Linked DNA regions of Homo sapiens. The protein of the gene in region 3 interacts with the protein of the main gene of each other region in a biochemical or structural test. Each region holds a gene or a part of one and is shown on either strand. Other genes may lie near its edges. The genes, in order: TPM1, PRKG1 and TNNT1.

Region 1 (7,038 bases), on a different chromosome or scaffold from region 3:
AAATCACGACTAAACAGAGTAATCATATTTAGAAAACCTAAGATGTCATTTTCATGATCAAAATAAAGGTGGCTGAGTCATGAATATACTTCAAAAAAGCTTGAACTTTTCTTTGTGCTATAAAAGGATGATCGACAATAACCAAAACTTACATTGTTTGAATCCAAGTTCTTTTTCACCCTTCTCAATGTATAACTTCCTAGTAATATGGGACAGCTACAGAACCATTCATCATGAGCCTTTCATTAGTTAGCCAGGTCCTCCCAAGTAAGGCCACCGAAATAATCAACACAGAGGGGTCACTACATCCCGAGCTAAACCTCCAGCAAAGGAAGACACTGATCAAGCCAGACCTTTCAACTCTCAACAAGCAATGTCCCCTGTGTGACCCAGACTGCAAAGCAGAGCCATCACAATTCCCCCAAAACCCCCCCAGATGTCCAGACCTCATTCTAACCTTTGAAAATCAGAACTCTGAGAGGGAATGCAGGCCTGGGTATTTTTTTGAAGTTCAACAAGGAACTACTGCTTTAGAAACTCCTGATATAATTCTGTATAGTGTTCAGTATTTAAAAAGAAAAAGCAGCAGCCAAACACTAACCCTCATATGTGTGAAGCAGCTTTGTAGTTTTATTCAATGTTGAAACTAAAATGTCAATAAATAAGAAGTAAAAAGAATAGCAAACAGAAATAGCTTACACAGTGTTTATTTGACACTGAAACGAAGAGCTTCTGTACAATAGAAAGCACAGTGTGTGCCTGGCTCTAAGGCAGGATGCTAAGAGAGAGAACCAGGGTCAGCTGGAGAATAGACAAATGCAGAGCTCAGAGAGGTGGGACATCCAGCTCGACGAGGGAGTCTTGGGAGAAGTGAAGCAAAGAAACTTATCTGCGTGAAGATAAAAAGGTGGGAGGAAAAAAAAAGTGGCACAATGAGAAAAAAAAAAAAAAGAAAGGAAACCAAACCAATAGATGAGAGCACTTGAAACACAGACAAGAAGCAGTCATGCAAACCCCACTGCCAGCCACACCCTTGGAAGGACATCCATCTTCCCACCTGAGGCCGTCACAGGCCGCCTTTCGGCAAGGGTCCATTTTAAGAAGACCCATGAACAGAATTTAAAAACAAAAAAAATTTTAAGCTACACTCGTCTTTCAGAATATTTAATCATACTTGATGCAAAAAGTTTTTCCCAAAGAATCACCACATTTTAGCACTGAAAAAGACCTTAGAGACAGATGATCTGCTCCACCCCCTCATTTACAAATGAGGGATGAGAAGACACATTTTCTCTGGTTTCCATGGCAACAGTCATGTCTCTAGAGGCTTTTTTGTTGACTGTGGGGATTCTATAACCTCTAAGGCAGCAGGCACATGCCACTCTCTTCAAGTTACCATTTTTTCTGCATGGGTAAATGAATGACAGGTGGGCTTGGAAAATGACATTTCCAGCTTCAATGGAATTCAGGGTGATATTAGAATGAAGAACTCTGAAACATTCCAGGTTAGAATTTAAAGTAGTAGAAAAAGTTTAATGTTTAAGTTTGGTTAGTAATATGTAAATTAGTTGTATCTGTTCAAGGTTCTTCTCATGATAACAAGACTACCTACTCCAACTCTTACTGCCTAACAGTAAAATCTGGGCCATTAACTCCCAAGCTCACATTGTACAATCTGTGTTTAATTTCCCATTTATTTGACACAGGTTGTGGTAAATATTTATCGTGGGTATTTTAATTCCTTTCATAAAAACACAAAATTAAAGGCTTGGTTACTCAGCAGAGGGTTCTTTTTACTCTACCATTCTTTTTTTTCTTGAGACAGAGTCTCGCTCTGTCGTCCAGGCTGGAGTGCGGTGGTGCGATCTCGGCTGACTGCAAGCTCCACCTCCCGGGTTCATGCCATTCTCCTGCCTCAGCCTCCTGAGTAGCTGGGACTACAGGCATCCACCACCACGCCCGGCTAATTTTTTTTGTATTTTTAGTAGAGACAGGGTTTCACCGTGTTAGCCAGGATGGTCTCAATCTCCTGACCTCGTGATCCGCCCGCCTCGGCCTCCCAAAGTGCTGGGATTACAGGCGTGAGCCACTGTGCCCGGCCTACTCTAGAATTCTTAAAAGTAAAAGAGATGATCTTTTGTAGTACCACTGTTAAAGCTGTATTGGATCATGCCAATTTCCTTATCCTCAGATTCTCAATAACCTGACACTTTAAGGGTTCCTTCAAATTATATTTAACGAAAATGATTATGTTGTACTTAGTTGAATTTCAGGAAACAAATTTTGATATTTTTTGAGAAGTTCCTGTACAACAAACGGCATGGCCTTCTAGTTTTACTTGAGTTTAGCTTAATTTCCCAAAAGGACAGTGCTCAAGGTCACTCATTCTAGTTCACTGCTCTAGTTCAGCGTTTACAAAATAAACGGATTCTGAAAAGAAAATGGTTTGTATAGACAGACTTAATCTAATTGGCCTTTATATTAGCAGAAAGTGAAAAAACAATGACTATTCTAGGTTATGACAAAAAGGGTGAACACAAGAGTGCAAAGATGGAGATTAGGGAGCAAGGAAGGCATGGTGGTGAGTTTATTACATTAGCATGAGGGCAGGGTGTAAGCAGGCAGAGTGGATGAACGTTTACATGGAAGTCATATCGTTGAGAGCGTGGTCCAGCTCCTCGCTGATGGCTTTGTACTTCAGTTTCTGAGCGTACAGCTCGTCTATGACCAGGAAGTGGAAGGCAGAGGTGCAAGAACATGGAGAGTGATCAAGAAATGGAGGGTGAGTGAGGGTGGTGCGCGCACCATCCCAACACAGCAGCAAGAAAAGGGCAATGCATGAAGGGGTTGGTGCCGCAGCAGGTGGCCAATGCAGGAGGCGTGCGTTTTGTTTTAAGTAAATTGAAACAAAAACAAAGAGAACAAAACCCATTAGAAAATAAAATGAAAAAGACTCAATATGAAAATCCTAACAAATATGGTAGGTATATCAGTAAACCATGTTAAATTGTAAACGAAACCACAGAAGGCTGTCTCCTGGTGAGGGGAGGCAGGGGCTAATGGAACATCTTTCTTTTGCAGAGCTATATTTTAATTACACTGGAGTAGTCAGGCATCTGCAGCTATAAACAATGGGAAAAAAATGCAAGGGCAGTGTTTTGGAAGAACAATTTGTGACTACAGCCTGTAGTCCTTATCTGGTTCCACCTTCAAACCACTGACTTCCTGACCACACTAGACCACTGGGATAGCGATTTCTTAGTGCCATTTAAGCTACTCCTGTGGTCTTCCCACTCAAGCTGCCTATTACTGGTCCAGGAGGCTTGAAAAGCAATGGGCGCCACACTTTATATGGCAAGTCTGCAACTTAGTTTTTGTAATGCTGCAGGTTTCATACTTTGCTGCACTTTGGCAGATCATTTTGCAACCATTTGTCATTCTCTCTTCTCCACTATTTTGGTTATTATCTGCACCAAACACTAGTTCCTTCTCTAATCCCTTCTGTGATGTAGATATTTGTCTTTTTTCTTTCTTGTTCACAGCTAATCCTTCACAAGCTTCAAAGCTCAACATTTAGGATATCTGTGAGATAGAGTGGTTATTACTAAAATAAAACCTAAGTGCCTTAGGGAAGAAATGCTTAAGTATAATTTTTCCCTCCTCCTTCAGGATATAAAGTATTTTGTTAAGATAATATATGACTTAAAATAACCCCTAAATCCTTACTTTGAATTCATACTTGGAAGAAGATGGGTTCTTCTAAAAACAAGACCACAATCACCACATCATTCCCAATTTAATTAGGAAGTAACACTAAAGATATAAAATATACTAGAGTCATTCTCACCAATAAGCACCTCACTCACAGTGAAAAATAAACCTGCCACACTTGTAATGAGCATGAAGTCAAGCTGGATGGCATTTGCCACTATGGCTGGTGGCTAACTAGTCACCTCGTGAGCAGAAGACTTAGGTTCATGAGTTCAAGAGCCACAGAGAAAAACCCCAGAGGACACACAGGAAGAATGTGCAAGTGCAAAGGAGCGTATCAATGTGGATGCCCTTGAATTGGAAAATTGTTTTGCCAGGTTGGTATTCAACCATAAGGATTAAACTAAAAACACTACTTAAGATCTTACCTTCTAAGTCATCAATGCTTTTCTCCAATTTAGTTACTGACCTCTCCGCAAACTCAGCCCGAGTCTCAGCCTGTAATGATTTATTTGAGTTAAAGTTGGGAAGTTTTATGTTTCCTGTAGCTACAAACATAGGGAAAACTAGAGGATGAAAATGAAGCACATCACCTATAAAATGGATCAGAAACTACTTGTCAGTTTCAGTCACCTCTGTGAGAAATGGCAGTTAGCACAGTACATAAACTCCAAGGCGACCTTTGAATATTCCTGACTTGGATCATTGGAACTTTAAAATGAAAAGGCCCTGACCGGTTCCATGAAAACAAACTCATTTAAAATCCAGTTGGCTTCATCCACAACTCTCATATTACCTCCTTCAGCTTGTCGGAAAGGACCTTGATCTCTTCCTCATATCTGTCTTCCTTCTGCGAGTACTGTAATTAGAAAGAGCATTCCAGATGTCAGGCTGCAGCTCAATCTACTCATGGCTTCTCATGCAAAGAACTCGCCAGCTCAGCCAACAGATGTTAAGGATCTCTTAGGAGGTAATGGAACCTCTGATATCAAATGGCACACTGCAATACATTCTCTGCTTTCTTGCCTATTGTTTTACATGGGATAACAACAAGATAACTTATCCACTTGGCACTTGGTTTAAATTAAATTGATGCCTCATATCCCTAACATAAAATAAATTCTCTAGTTAAAAAAAAGAATTTGTTATCTAGTAACTCTCCAAAAATCACCTCACAATATTGCCATTTTACTAAAATGTCTACTGTAAGTGTTGCTTTCTGGCAGGGCCTCTTTTGAGCAGCTCTTAAAAGATGCCTTTCCCCCACACCATCCTCCTGGCCTACCTTCTCAGCCTGAGCCTCCAGTGACTTCAAGTTGTTCGTCACAGTTTTCAATTCTTCTTCAAGCTCGGCACATTTGCTAATGTTTTCGATCAGAGGCAGAAAGGGTGGGAGACAAGCCAAAGGAAGGAGGAGAGAAAAAGGAGAGGGATGGGAAAAAATGAAAACTGAGTCCTAGAGACGAAGGGCTGCCTTAAAGTAGCCAAATCATCAGGTATTAAAATGTTTAGGTTTTCCAGGAACACTGCCCCCCAACCTCGCAACAGCAGAAGGCAGGGTGACCAAATCCAACAACTTTGAAGTGCGATAATTTGGCTCCTTTTTTGGCTGCCCAAAGAGCATTTATGAAGGGAAAACAAAGGAGCATAAAGGACCAAGGGAAAGCACTTAAGGCAAGATATAAATAGCAGAGGGTGAAGTGAAGGTGCAGTCGTTATACCAAACGAACCAGGAGGCATTGGAAGCTGAAAGATGTCTGGGTTGCAGTTAAACCTAAAAACCACACGAGCCATCAGTACCTTATCCTCTGCAGCCATTAATGCTTTCAAGGTCTGATCCATTATTCTTAATTGTTCTTCCAGCTGTCGGACTTGGCTGTTAGTGGACACAGGAAATGCACAAGGCCATTCACAAAATCAGTGTGCAGGTAAGGCATGCAGTGATACACGCATTCATACATAAGACACCCCACACGAGTCCTCCATGTTCCATACTCGTGGCTCATCCACATCAAATGAGCACAAAAGGAGCCCGGAGCTGAAACAGGTAATGTGCAGCTGCCAGAAGGTCATGCTGTTTAGTCACTGCTCTGCAGCACCCCATTCGTGGCCTCCTGGCGCCGGGCCCGCTTACCCTTCTGAGAGCTCAGCCCGCTCCTCTGCACGTTCCAGGTCGCTCTCAATGATGACCAGCTTACGGGCCACCTGCAGCAGGAAGACACAACACACACACCATGGGTCTTGCAAGCTTTGTGTAACAGAAGGGCATGGGGGTAGAGATCAGATCCCATCAGGCCCTAAGGGTTTTGTCTACAAACAATATGATCCTCTTTCTGGTAGACCAGAGAGAAGCAACTCTCTATTAGGAGTGCCAGCAGAGAGGAGATCAGAGGCTTCTGCTTTGACTCAGAATGGTTAGCTGTGATTGGGCAGTCTCAATTGGAAGTCTGACCTAGGTGAACCGGCAGCCAGACCAAAATGTGGAAGGAGGGATAAAATACACATTCACAATCTCAAAAACAGCAGTAGGATGAGACATGTACTAAAAAGGTGGGGGCTGCCAGGAAAACAAAGTAAACCTAAGAACTCCATCAATTTGATGGCTGATCTGTGCATCTACCTCCTTACTGCAGTGGAAGAATACAAGAGACACTAACGTGAGACAAGTTGGTGAGATAACTGACAAAATCAAATTTGTATTTAGTGGAAGAACCAGAGAGAGGAAGGGAGCCTCTGAAGCAGATCAAAACTTGTGAGCATAGTGTAATCTGAAGGTAATAATGGTAATAAAAAGGAGGGGCAATGCTGTTTCAGGATAGCCACGATGTGATCCAATAAGGAAAAAACAGAAACCTTAATAATCAAGTTGCCTCTTATCACAGGAGGCTGTTTTCATGGGGACACGACCAGGAGCAAATTCTGCTGAAAACCTGCGTTGATAATAGTTTTCTACCACCCTTGAGGAGAGAGGCCTCTGTGAATCCACTGAGAAACTGTCTGTGGTCTCTAAGCTGCCCAATCTGGATGTGCCAGGTCACTCTGGGAAGAAATGACTTGCACCATGACAGCATGAGAGCCTCCTTTCACAAGACACAGGGCCCAACTCTCCCTTCCGGCCAAAGATCTTTTGTCCGGGTCTTTGTGGCTGGGGGAGAGGAGTTTTGGTCCTTCTTCGCAGTGCTACTGATTGGCTTCCTGATAAAGCCTGGGATCCCCTAGCAGGATTAAAATTAGAACCGTTTTCTGGACACAAAGGAACTCTGCTTCTCAAAACCACCCATTTCTGCCAACAAAGCAGATGGCCTCACTCGGGAATCAAGACTGTAC
Region 2 (7,106 bases), on a different chromosome or scaffold from region 3:
ATGGCATGTGTGTGTGTGTATATATATATATATATGATGGCATGTATATATATATATGTATATATATGATGGAATACTACACAGCCATAAAAAGGAATGAATTAACAGCATTTGCAGGGAACTGGATGAAATTGGAGACTATTATTCTAAATGAAGTAATTCAAGAATGGAAAACCAAACATCACATGTTCTCACTGATATGTGGGAGCTAAGCTATGAGGATACAAAGGCATACGAATGATGCAATGGGCTTTGGGGATTTGGGGGGAAGAGTCGGAGGGGGGTGAGGGATAGAAGACTACAAATATGGTGCAGTACATACTGCTTGCGTGATGGGTACACCAAAATCTCACAAATCACCACTAAAGAACTTACTCGTAACCAAATATGACCTGTACCCCAATAACTTATGAAAAAATAAAAAAATAATAAGCTATAAGAGGGATAGCTGGGCTCTCCCTTTGTGGCTTATTATTGCTTTCATGTTTAATTCCACCTGTAAATCTTCTTCTATTCTAATTAGAAAAAAAAGTAGAAGACTTCAAATAAATCAGTGAATTGAAATATCAAGTCAAATATAATACAGTAGAAACACATTAGATATGCCAAATGTTAACTCACAGATTAAAATATTAACTTTGTGCCACAAACTATACATTCTGAGGAGAGAGACCCCATCTGTTTTGTTTATTACTGGATCCCCAGCCTCTATCACAATGCCTGGTATATAATCTCTATGTACATATTAACTAGCAATAATACATAATATATACACTATGATATAATAGCTTAGTATAGATGTTAACCTTATCGCCTAATGCCAACATGATTACATTCCCTTTTATGCTTTTTTAACCTTAAATTTAAGAATTGAAATAAAATACCGATGCAATAGGATACAATGTGGTAACAAGAAATCCATTTGGCATATATAAGAAAGGCCATGGGAATAACACGAAAGGGCCTGTTGTACAAAGATATGAAGGTACCATAAGAACACCATTAGGAATGAGAATTTAAATCAACAGTTCATAAGGAACCACTTGTTTTATTCTGGGGTATCTGCAAAGTAACAAATATAAAAACATTACATGGTTATATACATCAGGGCTACCTATAGCTAAGTTTCAGAAGGATGCTACCCTGTGAAGGAGAGTCTGGGAGGCAGGACTCAAACAAATAAGAAAAATACAGATGTCTAAATGTGAGTGTTCAAAAGAACAAAGATGACTTTTGTATGATCAATAAATCATTCATGGAAAATAATCAAAAGATTATTCATAGGAAAATAAAAGTGTGTTTTTAAAAAAACACAGGGTAGATAATGATCTCCTGAGACATTTTATAGGATAAATTATATTAGAAGATAATTAGATAATTTGCTAGTTATCTAAATATGAGATGGAAAATTAAGACAATGAATTTGCATGATTAGAACAAACAAGCACCATGTAGACAAACTTTCCTTGCCCTGGAAGGGTAAGAAGGTAAATCTAAATCAGATAATTTACATGAAATATTGCTTATAAGTGGATTCTTTTCTTTTTCCTAAGACTAGCCAAGGGATAAAGAGATGGCTGGAAACTTTTGTTAATTTTGAAACCAAAGAGCCATGTAAAGGTAGAGGGAAAAATTACTTTGGAAAAAATTCACAATGTCACAAAAGGCAAACTGCCTATCTGGAAAAAGAGTAGAGCAATTAAACTGATAGTTAATTCAAATTATAATTATAAAATAACTATAATTCTCTTTCTGCTAAAGCAATGAATTGAATTCCAGCTACAGAGCTAATTCTAACATTCATGCAAAACTAAGGCCATGTATATATTTTGCTATGTACCATTTTTATGATCGACTAAGCCTGTATTGTTAGTTACAAAGTGAGTTTTGTTATATGTACAGTAAATCATATGTGTATAGTGGGTTATGCCCTGTGCTTACTTTAAATATTGAAATATAAGCATGTGTAAATTATAAATATGATTATTATACTTTATCATATTAACTCTTCTTATAGACCAACATGGGCAACTGTTTTTAGAGATATCATAGAAATTTCTTAAATCTCCTACCTATCCCTGAGAATGGTCCAGAGCTCTCCACCTAGACAAGCTTCCATCAACATATACAAATATTTGCTGTCCTTAAATGTTCTGTACAGTCTGTAAATTGCAAACAAGAAAACAAAGATTATAAACATTACTGTCTTTTACAAGTGTGCAATTTTGGGGGGCCCAGATTATAGTTTTGATTTGCCAAGCTCAAAATTTTGTCAGAATGAGAGAGATCTAAGCCCACACATGGGGAAAAGAAGCCAATGGCTCATGAATAGGATTTTAATAGAAGAAACTAAGGCGCTAATCTCTCCCTTGAAATGGATTAATCATAATGATTATGGACAAAGAGGGTTTCTTGGGATTCTTTCCATTCCAATTTGGGTAATGTTTTGAGCATAGACCCTTGGGGCAACATTTAGTGGTCATCAACATGCAGTGAAAATGGGAATAAAGTGGATTAAACTTTACAGATTCAGACATGTATAAATTTCATATGCTATTCGCTCAAATTCATGTTACATCTTGTTTTCAGTAAATGCCACTGGAAAATTCACTACAAAAAGCTGCTTCCACATATAAAAATCTCCCCATTATCCATTTATTAGTACTGAGGTGGAATGGTCAGCTGTCATTTCATTTTTTTAGATCTTCAAAAAATATTCAGATAATTAAAGGTTAAATAGTTTGATTTTGGATATTTTGTCTTTTAAGCATCAAAGGTCTATGTAGAGTTTGGGGATTTAAAAAAAGATAAAAATGGAATGTTAGAAACTCTGGTACCTCCTTTGGGAAAACACATTGTTTTCAGACACTAATTCTCTTTAAAAGAAAGAATAGAGTCAGAACTTTATTTTTAGAAATCAAACAAAACTTTCTTAAGATTAGATTAAAAAGAAGTTTCTTTGTGCATACGAAATGTGTTAACAGTGAGCACAAGTGGCAGAGGGTTTTGTGGTGGATTTGTCACTTGGAGTTGGGTACGTCTGTCCCTGGCATGGAGCCTTTACCTCACTATGAAATCGGAATGAGCCCCCTGCATGATCTGCTTCTCTGAGCGGATGTGCTCCTGCTGTCTTGTGTCCACAATGTGACGTTTCTTGAGAATCTTCATTGCAAACGTTTTGGATTCTTCACTTTTCAACTGGACCTTAAAGAAAGAGAGAAGAGAGTAAGAAAAAGCCCATAGACTTGTAAGAGTGCATTATTATCCCCAAATTAACAGGTACATGGCGCACTTAAATGAACCTCAGCCACCTCCCAAGTCAAAACACAGTAAATCCTTGGTAGAGCTGCGTTTAACATCCAGGGCTCACAGCTATCATCCAATCTCATGCTCTGAATTGGCTGAATTTTAACTAACTTGATTCCAAATTAATTGTGTTCACGTGTGGATTAGAAGAGGGAAAATGTACTTAGTTCTAGTTTTATTATTTCATGTCATAGAGTGTGTTTGAATACATTTTATAGTTCTTCTGTCAAAAGAGTAGAAAAAAAACTTCTTTTCCAATTTTATTTCAGTAAAGATGGCCAAAAATAGGGTTATATGGGCCTTTATATTCTTCCTCCTTAGTTCTAATCCACAAACATTTCTAATTTTTTTTATCTTTTTTTTAAAATTTTATTATTATTATACTTTAAGTTCTAGGGTACGTGTGTACAACGCGCAGGTTTGTTACATATGTATACATGTGCCATGTTGGTGTGCTGCACCCATTAACTTGTCATTTAGTATTAGGTATATCTCCTAATGCTTTCCCTTCCCCCTCCCCCCACCCCACAACAGTCCCCAGTGTGTGATGTTCCCCTTCCTGTGTCCATGTGTTCTCATTGTTCAATTCCCACCTATGAGTGAGAACATGCGGTGTTTGGTTTTTGGTCCTTGCGATAGTTTGCTGAGAATGATGGTTTCCAGCTTCATCCATGTCCCTGCAAAGGACATGAACTCATCATTTTTTATGGCTGCATAGTATTCCATGGTGTATATGTGCCACATTTTCTTAATCCAGTCTATCATTGTTGGACACTTGGGTTGGTTCCAAGTCTTTGCTATTGTGAATAGTGCCGCAATAAACATACGTGTGCATGTGTCTTTATAGCAGCATGATTTATAATCCTTTAGGTATATACCCAGTAATGGGATGGCTGGGTCAAATGGTATTTCTAGTTCTAGATCTGTGAGGAATCGCCACACTGTCTTCCACAATGGTTGAACTAGTTTACAGTCCCACCAACAGTGTAAAAGTGTTCCTATTTCTCCACATCCTCTCCAGCACCTGTTGTTAACATTTCTAATTTTTAGCTTGAGTGGTGGACCCTAGTCTCTGCTGAGACTGCAGACTGTTATTTCTTCAGTACTGACTGTATTCATTTCTTCTTTTTAACCTTGCAGAATTTTCCCTCCCTACAGTTTAAAGAGAAAAAAAATTGTAACAAGATTTTTTCAGGAGATTTTGAAAACCGTTTGTTTTTCTTCTCAAACAAGCATGATGGCTTTAGTTCCTTTGACCTCAAACTTTACTCTCTAATAACTGGGAAGACTTGGAGGCTTAATATCTTTCAATGTGCCATGCCTCTCTTGCAGCCCTCATGGCTCCCAGTGGCTCCAGAGGAGGCATGGATCTTCCACATGCCTTACTCAGACAGGGTGCTGTTTATGGTTTTACAAGAAATTTCAAGAAGGTGACTTGTAACAAAAACAAGAGAGGTAATAGAGCTAATTACTTAAAAGCAATGTAAGGACATTATCATCTAGTGCTCTCAAGCAGCAGAATCCTCAAGATGATACCAAACAGCCCATATTATTTGGGAGTAATGTAACCTTGGGGAAATAACATGGCATGCTGTTTCTGCTTTTCAGCTGAAGTATGGCTGTCCCCTCTTTAGTCGTTAATTATTTACTGCTTCATCAGCAGGGATAGCGAAGGTCTTAAGTGTCTTGTTCCTGCACACATGTACAGATTGAGTTCAATCTTCGAAGATATTCATGTGGCAAGTTCCTTAGGAGGGAGCATGAAGATACTGCAAATAAATGGGCCTCGGTTAGCTGCCAGCAATTGTGAATCAGTATGACAGGTAGAGGGAAAAATGGGTATTTGAAAATGCTTTTAACAGCCAAAGACCCTGTACTCTGGCTGTGAAACTCAAAGATGACAGATTAGTGTGCTACAAATAAATTCAGTAGTAACTCAAAATAAAACACCAAATGTGAAAACTCACTTCTAAAAGAAATCTGGAAAGCTAGGGAAGATGGCATGAAAAATGAGCTATGTTAGAGTACTACAATTCAGAGAAGAAGAAGTAAAGTCATATTCCCTCTTCAGAGTCATTCCCAGTTAAACTAGTGAGGACTGTTGTGCAGTTGTTCAAAAATGCCTACTATAAAAATGATTCTCTTTAGTGATGATAACACAGATACACAGATTTTTTTTTTTTTATACTTGTACACAGGGTAGGAGGAAAGAATTCAGCCTTTATAGTCACAGGTCTGGACTTGAATTCTGACTCCACTTAGTCCCTCTCAGTCTAAGCAACTAGTCTCTCTCGGGCTAGTTGCTTAACTGCTCTGAGCCCTAGTTCTAGCTGAGGATAATACCAGATACCACAGTTATTATGATCCTAAATGAAAACGCACCACCAAATGGGCATTCATTGATGGACTCTGCTTGTACCCAGCAATCTCTACTGAATAGGGCAAATCAAATGTTGCTTTTTCAGAGGAACAAACTGATTTCCAAAAATGATTCCTATCTTTCCCAAGGTCACAGAGCTATCAAGTGGCAGAAATGGATTCATGTTCAGGTTTTTTTTTGGCCCAAGCTATTTCCAGTATATGCTGCTTCCCTTCAGCTGAATACAAAACCAATTAAATGCATAGTGATTGATACTTTGCAAATCAGAGTTTAACGGAATCGACTAACTCATGGACTGTGAGATAAACTGAACAATATTTCTATTACCTTTAAGCTTAACTTATGCTAGGCATGTGATTTGGGAGAACAGCCAAAGCCTCACTGACATTTTCCTAGGCACTTCCCAGGGACCTCCATGTGTTAGGGGTTTGAGATACCCGATTGCTTGAATACTGCAAGGAGAAGCCAAGTGGGGTAGAAAGAGGATAATGAGAACTGGTGGGTGGCAGATGTCATAAGAGATAGGTAAAAGCTACAGAAAGCAACAGAAATTCTTGGGAGTCAGGCTTACTAGTTGCCAATTTAAAAAGCATTAATTACAAAAAGTTTATAGAACTATACTGCTAACCTACTGAGGCTTTCTGCTTTGCCTTTACTTTGCATGGAACCAGTCCTTGGGTCTAGAATCATCTTCCTTCTTTGGACTCTATACAAGATCTCATGAGCTCCTTAGAGCAGGGCCCTTAGAATCTCCACTTCCAATTTAAACCAGAATGCTACAAGACTCACAGAACTCAGGATCTTAACCAGAAAGTCAGGGTACCTGAGGACCACTGGTGTGAGCTAACTCAACAGAGACAGTGGAGAATGTTGAAGTTAATTATTTCCATAAAGCCCAAGTAACATATTCATCAGAAATCTTCTGATAAACCAACAACTTCCCAAAGATCATTCAAGAATGTTCAATTCAACATTGTTTCTAATGGAAAAATTTAGAAACAATCTAAATTTCTAGCAAGAGGAGGAGCTTGAAAAATAAATTATGGTATATCCATGCAATGCAACTGTAAAAATGATGACTTAGAATTATATTTAACATTACGGAAAAATAACCAAGACATATATATGAATAAAAGATACTGATTACAAGTCAGCATGCATTTTATGATCTCACAGTGTGTTCGTATGTTAGTGTGTATATATACATTCATATGTATATATATACACACACATCTATATGTGAAATAAATGTATGAAGAGACAATCAGAAATGTGTTCATCAATACGTTAACAATGATTTTTCCTTAGGGAGATTTTTAGTTGATTTTTACTTCTTTTTACTTTTTGAATTGCTTAACTTTTGAACAATCCTCATACCTTGCTTTTACAATGAGTAAAAGTAAAACTCTCATCATGAAAA
Region 3 (7,838 bases):
AGACAAGGTTGGAGGCGAAGATAAGGGGGGATGGGGTGGTGCTTCTCCGCAAACATCCAACCCTTCTGTAAAGATTCCTCCAGACTGGGGAAGAAGGCTTGGGTGTCGGTCCCTTTAAGAAGGAAGGGAAAGGGTTAAAGCCACTGCGGGGCCATTTCCCTTCCCGGCCCCGAGAGGGCGCAGGAGCTCTCAGGGGCTTAAAGGACCGGGCCTGGGGGCGGGTTATGGGGGCGGAGGGAGGGAAGGGTGGTCTTGGAGGTTGGGGCCCGAGGATATCGGGGGTCCCCCCGGGCCCCCGACATCGGTCTCGGGAAGCGAAGCAGCCGCGGTTACCTGGCTCTGCCACCGGCTCCGGCTCTTCGGGGGCTGGGGAGGGGAGGGAGGAGCAGCGAGGGTTTGGGGAGCGAGGGGGGAGCGGCCACGCCCGGGCGCGGGAGGGGAGAGAGGGAAGAGACGTGAGAGGCTGTTAGAGGACCGGGAGCCGAGGCCGTCGGGAGCCCCATCCCGCCCCCTCCTCCCGGGCCCAGCGTCCCCGCCCCCCCACCCCCCAGCTCCAGACCTGCGGAGTCCGGGACCTCACCTTCCTCCTCCTCCTCCGCAGCCTCCTCTGGAGATGGGGGCACAGAAGAGAAGGCGTTAGGAGCTGGGGGAGGGATGGGGGCGGTGGCCAGAGACCAGGGTTCCAGTCTCTGCTGGACGGGGGTCCCTCTGGCCTCGGCTGCGATGGGCACGTTCCCCCTGGCGGTGCAGGGATGGCGCGAGGAGACGCTCCAGACCCGGAGAGGGCGGGCGAGGGCCCGAGGGCTGAGCCGCCCCTTCCCCGCCAAAGTGCCACACTCCTCGCCTCCCCTCCCAAGAGCTCCTGGGCGTGTCCCCATCCCATAGGGCCGGCCCACTCCCTACTCACCTTCCGGCTGCTCCCTGCGGACGGGTGTGGGGAGAGAGGAGGGAGGGGAGAGTTAGACCTGGGGTGGGAGAGCCTCTCCACCACTGCACGCCCCAACCCCTCCCAGTGCAGCACTCACTCCTCATATTCCTGCTCCTCGGTGTCCGACATCCTGGTGCGGCCTAAGGACCAGAGAGAAGAGGCCCAGTGGGGTGGGGCCCCAAGGAGGGGGCGACCTAGACTCCTGGGTGTGAGGGAGGAGGGGCTGGGGGCCTGGACTCCTGGGTCTGGACTCCTGGGTGTGAGAGAGGAGGAGCTGGGGTCTGGACTCCTGGGTGTGAGAGAGGAGGAGCTGGGGCCTGGACTCCTGGGTCTGAGGAAGGAGGGGCTGGGGGCCTGGACTCCTGGGTCTGAGGGAGGAGGGGCTGGGGTCTGGACTCCTGGGTCTGAGGGAGGAGGAGCTGGGGCCTGGACTCCTGGGTCTGAGGAAGGAGGGGCTGGGGCCTGGACTTCTGGGTCTGAGGGAGGAGGGACTGGGGTCCTGAACTCCTGGATCTGAGGGAGGAGGGGCTGGGGGCCGGATTCCTGGGTCTGAGGGAGGAGGGGCTGGGGGGTGTGTGGGAGGGTGGGTGTGGACTCCTGAGACTGAGATGGGTTGTCCTGGACACCTGGGTCTGAGGGAGGAGGGGCTGGGGTCTGGACTCCTGGATCTGAGGGAGGAGGGGCCAGGGGCCTGGACGCCTGGGTCTGAGGGAGGAGGGGCCGCGGGCCTGGACGCCTGGGTCTGAGGGAGGAGGGTCTGGGGGCCTGGCCTCCTGGGTCTGAGGGAGGAGGAGCTGGGGCCTGGACTCCTGGATCTAAGGGAGGAGAGGCTGGGAGTCTAGACTCCTGAGTCTGAGGGAGGAGCGGGCTGGGGGCCTGTACTCCTGCGTCTGAGGGAGGAGGGCTCAGGTCTGGACTCTTGGGTCTGAGGGAGGGGGCCGGCTGTCCTAAAGCATGCATGAGGACAGACCTTGGTAGGTGTGGTCCTGGCACAGCCAGGAGGCTGCAGACCCTGCCCCCTCAGCACAGCTGTCCTCTTTTGTCTTATGACAAGTCCATGGGAACCTGATCCAGTTGGGATTAGGAAGAGGCATTTGAGAAGGGACAGTGGCCTGAAGACAATAGCTGCCCCACCCCCAGGAGCTATTTTGGGGGGATGTCATAGATGGTGAAACCGAGGACATTTCCTAAGAAGGGATTTGAGGAAGGGGGGCTTCTGGGAGAATTAGTCACCCGCATCCCCTCTCCCACTCGCCCCACCCCACTGGCTGGTTTCCTCCCCACCTGTCTCCCCTTTCACCTTCCCATACATCACGTAGGGGGCAGGGGCATAAAGGGCACCTTCTGTCCGTAGACCTCACCCTGACCCCTACATTCTTAGACCTCAAAGTCTTTGAGACACCCTAGGCCACAGGGTGCCTAGCCCCAAATCCCAATACCCACAGATTCTGAGACCCCGATTTATGATGCCCGTGTTTCTGAGGCCAGCAAGTCCTCACAGCTCTGGATTCTGAAATCCCAGTTCTTGATAGTCCAGATATGGGCCGGGACATCCTAAGACCACCCCCAGGTCTTGAGACCTCCTAAAATCTGAAACCTCAAGAATATGAGACCCCCAAAATCTTGATACCCAAACTCGGAGGCCCAGTTCATGATACCCCAGATAATGGCACTCTAAGTTTTCATGCTTTCTATCATAATGTCTCAGATTCCGAGCCCTCCACTACCAAAACCCCAATTTCTTCTGAGACCCCCCCAATTCCTGATACCCTCAGAGTCTGAGGCCCCAAATCCTGACACCCAGATTGTTTGACCTCCAAGTCCAGATATCCCTGACTGCTGAGATTTCCCCCAGATTCCCAGAACCCCAAGATCCTAGGAGGTTTTATTCTGGGACATCCAAGTCCTGGCAGCCCCGGGTTAGGATTTGTGTAACCCACAAATCCTAGTATTTTCCCCTCTATCCTGAGTCCCCCTAAAGTCTGAGCCTCTCAAGTTCCCAGACCTCCAGTTGTATGCCCCACCTACCTCTGCACCATTTCTCCACACCCGACATCTTCCCCACCTGCCTCCTGCCCCCTCCCCCAAGGACATGGTTTTTGAAGACCACAGGGCTCCGCAGAGCCCCTTACCTAGGCTGTGTCTGAGATGCTGTGAATCTTGAGGCTGAGCCTTGCTGAGGGCACTGAAGCTCCGGGGAGTTTATAGCTGGAGGCTCGGGCCCGCCCCGAGGGGAGAGGGAGGGGGAGAGAATTCCTTTGCTCAAACACAAGCCTGGGAGTTCAGAGACAGCCCTGCTGCCCCTGGCTCCACACTCAGAGTCCAGAAGCCTCCGTGGGCCCCTCCCCAACCCCATGCCAACCCCATCTGCATGGCCCAGGAGCCCCGCCCCTGCTCCCACCCCACACCCCAGGCTCCCGTGGTGCTCCAACTACCTCCCTTATAGCTCCCTGTGCTTTGACGTCCCCATGCCCGGCACACAGTAGGTCCTTGGAGGACCTACTAATGACACATGGGCTATAAGGAATGTTTCCTGTTTTCTTCTCTCTGTTCCCTCTTTCTATCTAGGTCTCTTTCTGGACCCCCATTTCTGTTGTCTCTGTGGCTCTCCATCTGTGTGTCTCTGTGTGTCTGTCTCTACTTCTTAGTCTCCTCCTCTGTCTCTGTCCATCTTTTTGTCTCCTCCTCCCACCCCCACCCCTTTGTCTGCCGCCAGGATTCCATCCTGGTGACAACAGGCACTAAAGCCGGGAAGCAGGTGTGGGGAGGGGGAGGGGGAGGGTGGGGTGTCAATTAGGGTGAAACCTACCCTCCCTCCCCACCTCCATCTAACGCTGATCTTTTTTGGTATCCCCCTCCCGCTTCCCAGCCAAGCCATGACCTTGAGTTCTAGGTTCAAGCCAGCCCTGGAGAGCAGGCTTCCTCACCCTCCCCGCCTCTCCGTACCTCTGTCTCTGGTGGTCTCGGTCTTTGTGTTTCTGTGCATTTCTCGGGGCCCCTTGCTGGGTCTGTCTTGGGCTCTCTCTGCATCTGTCGCTTTCTGAGCCCCTCAGTGTGTTTCTCGGCATGTGTCTCCGGGTGGTTTTGTCTCTGCATTTCTGTGGGTGTCTCTGCATGTCTGCCCCTCTCAGCGTTTGTGTCTGTGGGGGCTCACAGTCTCTCTGTGCATTTCTGTCCACCTATGACCCCATTTCTGTCTCTTTTTGGCTCTGGGTCTCTGTGTCTGTGTTCACGTCTCTATCTTTCTAGTTCTCTCCATGTCTCTCTTAGTGCCCGCAGTTCCCCCTCTGTGGCTCTCCATTTCCATCTCTTATAGGGTCTCCATGTCTCTGCACCTTGCTGTGAGTATATCTCTGTCTCTCTTTTCTCCTTTCTTTGCACTTCCTTCTATGCATCTTGTGGTATTTTCTCCCTCTCTCTTTGGGTCTTTGCCTGGCTCCTACTCTCTCTACTCCCAACTCAGTCTCTCTGTTGTCGGTCATGTCTCTCTGCCTGTCTGTTTCTCTGTGTCTCTCTCTCTTTGACCTTTAGTCTTGGCATCTCTGTGCACTCCACATGGGCCAGAGGAGCTGTGACAATAGAGATCAGAAGACTGATGGAATGAACTGTTTGTGGCAATAAGATACCAAATTATAAACAAGACCTAAGGCCATGCCAGGCAAGGGTTAAGCCACGCATCCCTACACTTATATAATCGACTATGTTCCAACTGCCACAAGGCTTTTCCTTTTTCTAGCAGCTAAACAAGCACCGGCCTCAAGATAAGCAATATTACAACCATTGCAGCCATCCATTGCCAGATGCTGACTAGCTGAACCCCCTGTTCCACAAGGCATAACTACAGCATTAGTTGAACAAGAGACTGATTTCAGTAACTTTCTCCTGATAAGATGCCGCAGACCACGGACTGGTTCTGGCTGTTGACAGAGGCTGTGCACTGAGTGTCTTCATATCCCTGCTTCGTGTTTCGATACGAATGCATTCAATGGAATGCACTTAAATGTTAAGCCTCCACCACCAAGTGAAGGTGGGATGCATGTAAAATGTGTTTGCGGCCAGTCGCGGTGGCTCACGCCTGTAATCCCAGCACTTTGGGAGGCCAAGGAGGGCGGATCACGAGGTCAGGAAATCGAGACCAGCCTGGCCAACATGGTGAAACCCCGTCTCTACGAAAAACACAAAAATTAGCTGGGCGTGGTGGTGCATGCCTGTAATCCCAGCTACTGGAGAGGCTGAGGCAGGAGAATGGCTTGAACCCAGGACGCAGAGGTTGCAGTGAGCTGAGATCGTGCCACTGCACTCCAGCCTGGGTGACAGAGCAAGACTCCGTCTCAAAAAAAAAAAAAAATGAGTGTTTGCTTGTCACACATGCGTGTGTCCATGTGTCCACCTGTCCATGAATATTCATAGCTCCTTCTATAACCAGTTGAATACGTGCACTTAGCTAACCCACTCAGCATAAATTCCTGCCTTGCCCTTCCCTCCCTTAAAGTGCCTGCTTTTGTTTTTTGGCAAGAAGCCATGCTTCTGGTCTTCAGGTTGTGATCCGCTTCTTAAGAAACAAAGCTCCGCTCTCCAAATTCATGAACCCCGGGATTCTTTTCAATAACACAGCCAAGAGTGCTTCACATGGGAGACCCATCTGGTCCCCAACCTGCTGTGTGGCTTTGGGGGAGCCCCACCTGCAGTCTTCCCATCTGTCTCCTGCCTAAGCCCTGGGTAATAGACATGGAGTCACTTTCAGCTCAGAGAGAAGCTTTATTCCTCAGGGCCCTCCTCAGGGCAGGGGCAGTAGGCAGGAAGGCTCAGCTCTCAAACTTTTTCTTGCGGCCCTCCATTCCACTCAGTGCATCGATGTTCTTGCGCCAGTCTCCCACCTCCCGGTTTTCCTGGAGGATGGCGATGAGTCAGAGGTTAGGGTCTCTTCTTGGTCTCCAGTCTCTCAAGAATCCCTGTCTTCCCTCCAGCCTGTGGGGCCACTCTACCCTGGATGCCTAAGTATCTAGTTCTGGAGCACTTCCTGTCTTTTCAAGATAATCCCTGCCAATTTTCCCCATGCACTTCCTGTCTCCCTCATGCACTTCCTGTCCCCCTCATGCACTTCCTGTCTTTCCCCAGCACTTCCTGTCTCCCTCATGTACTTTCTGTCTTTCCCCATCCACTTCCTGTCTCCCTCATGCACTTCCTGTCTTTCCCCTCCACTTCCTGTCTCCTTCCTGCACTTCCTATCTTTCCCCTCCACTTCCTGTCTGCCTTATGCCCTTCCTGTCTCCTTCCTTCTCTTCTTATTATAGTAGTCCCTCCTTTTCTGCAATTTTACTTTGTGTGGTTTCAGTTACCTGAGGTAAACCATGGCCCAAAAATATTAAATGGAAAATTCCAGAAATAAACAATTCATAAGTTTGATGGATTCTCAGGTCAATAGTAGCCTAACGCCAGGTCATAATGCCTATGTCATCCACCTCACCTCATCTCAGCACATAGGCACTGTCATTTTACATCACAAGGAAAAGAAGGGTGATTACAGTGCTATAAGATATTTTGAGAAAGAGACCACATTCATGAGTTTTATTACAATCTGTTATAATTGTTCTATTTTATTATTATTATTATTTGAGACAGGGTCTGGCTGCCTCATCCAAGCTGGAGTGCAGTCGTGCAATCTCGGCTCACTGCAGCCTCAACTTCCTGGGCTCAAGCCATCCTCTCACCTCAGACTCCTGAGGAGCTGGGACCACAGGTGTGTGCCACCATGCCCAGCTAACTTTTGTTCTGTTTTGTTTTGTTTTGAGATGGAGTCTCCCAGTGTTGCCTGGGCTGGAGTGCAGTGGTGAGATCTCGGCTCACTGCAACCTCTGCCTCCCGGGTTCAAGCAATTCTCCTGCCTCAGCTTCACAAGTAGCTGGGATTACAGGCACCCACGACCACGCCCAGCAAATGTTTGTATTTTTACTACAGGTGGGGTTTCACTGTGTTGGCCAGGCTGGTCTCAAACTCCTGACCTCATGATCCGCCCGCCTTGGCCTCCCAAAGCGCTGGGATTACAGGCACGAGCCACCACACCCGGTAACTTTGGTATTTTTTATAGAGACATGGTCTCGCCATGTTGCCCAGGCTGGTCTCGAACTCCAGAGCTCAAGCAATCTGCCTGCCTTAGCATCCCAAAGTGTTGAGATTACAGGCATGAGCCACCACGCCCAACCTTCTTTTGTTGTTATTTATTGTTAATCTCTTACTGTGTCTAATTTAGAAATGAAACTTTATCATAGGTATGTATGTGTGTATAGGAAAAAAAATTACATATAGGGTTCAGTACAATCCATGGTTTCAGGCATCCACTCCTATCTTTCCTGTCTTCTTCTTTAAGATAGGGTCTCACTGTATTGCCCAGGCTGGAGTGCAGTGGTGCAGTCATAGCTCACTGCACCCTCGATCTCATGGGCTCAAGCGATTTTCCTGCCTCAGCCTCCTGAGAAGCTGCATGCCACCACCGTGACTGGCTAATTTAAAAAAGAAATTTGTAGAAATTAAAACAACAACATGGTGGTGTGCACCTGTAGTCCCAGCTACTCGGGAGGCTGAGGCATGAGAATCACTTGATCCTGGGAGGCAGAGGTTGCAGTGAGCCGAGATGGTGTCACTGCACTCCAGCAACCGAGATGGTGTCATTGCACTCCAGCCTGGGCAGCAGAGACTCCATCGCAAAAAAAAAAAAAAAAGGAAATTAAAAAAAAATTTTTTTTAAACCTCAAAGATTACAGGCATAAGCCACTGCACCTGGACCTTCATGTACCTCTTTGCTCTTACATGGACTTCCTGTAGCCCTAATGCACTTCCTGTCTTCCCCTTCTACTTCCTGTCTTCCTCTTGCATTTCTGAGGACCCCTTACTAGCTGCTTCTACCTCCAAC

The links.
Region 1: the proteins of TNNT1 (region 3) and TPM1 form a complex in vitro, tested with the Homo sapiens proteins (one study listed by BioGRID).
Region 2: the proteins of TNNT1 (region 3) and PRKG1 form a complex in vitro, tested with the Homo sapiens proteins (one study listed by BioGRID).

The regions. Positions count from the first base shown.
Region 1 is NC_000015.10:63,059,747-63,066,784, reverse strand, and holds the end of TPM1 (tropomyosin alpha-1 chain), read right to left. Parts: intron 5,917-7,038; coding exon 5,846-5,916; intron 5,588-5,845; coding exon of another isoform or gene 5,512-5,587; intron 5,073-5,511; coding exon 4,997-5,072; intron 4,571-4,996; coding exon 4,508-4,570; intron 4,210-4,507; coding exon 4,140-4,209; coding exon of another isoform or gene 3,976-4,139; exon of another isoform or gene 2,722-3,975; coding exon 2,643-2,721; coding exon of another isoform or gene 2,639-2,642; exon of another isoform or gene 890-2,638; coding exon 886-889; coding exon of another isoform or gene 798-885; 3' UTR 607-797; downstream 1-606. UniProt on the Homo sapiens protein: Binds to actin filaments in muscle and non-muscle cells. Plays a central role, in association with the troponin complex, in the calcium dependent regulation of vertebrate striated muscle contraction.
Region 2 is NC_000010.11:52,267,448-52,274,553, reverse strand, and holds part of PRKG1 (cGMP-dependent protein kinase 1), read right to left. Parts: intron 3,205-7,106; coding exon 3,065-3,204; intron 2,163-3,064; coding exon 2,073-2,162; intron 1-2,072. UniProt on the Homo sapiens protein: Serine/threonine protein kinase that acts as a key mediator of the nitric oxide (NO)/cGMP signaling pathway. GMP binding activates PRKG1, which phosphorylates serines and threonines on many cellular proteins.
Region 3 is NC_000019.10:55,146,101-55,153,938, forward strand, and holds the start of TNNT1 (troponin T, slow skeletal muscle), read right to left. Parts: upstream 3,107-7,838; 5' UTR 3,061-3,106; intron 1,994-3,060; exon of another isoform or gene 1,899-1,993; intron 1,069-1,898; 5' UTR 1,058-1,068; coding exon 1,026-1,057; intron 922-1,025; coding exon 908-921; intron 608-907; coding exon 581-607; coding exon of another isoform or gene 560-580; intron 367-559; coding exon 334-366; intron 1-333. Other genes in the region: TNNI3 (troponin I, cardiac muscle), read right to left, coding at 5,734-5,817. UniProt on the Homo sapiens protein: Troponin T is the tropomyosin-binding subunit of troponin, the thin filament regulatory complex which confers calcium-sensitivity to striated muscle actomyosin ATPase activity.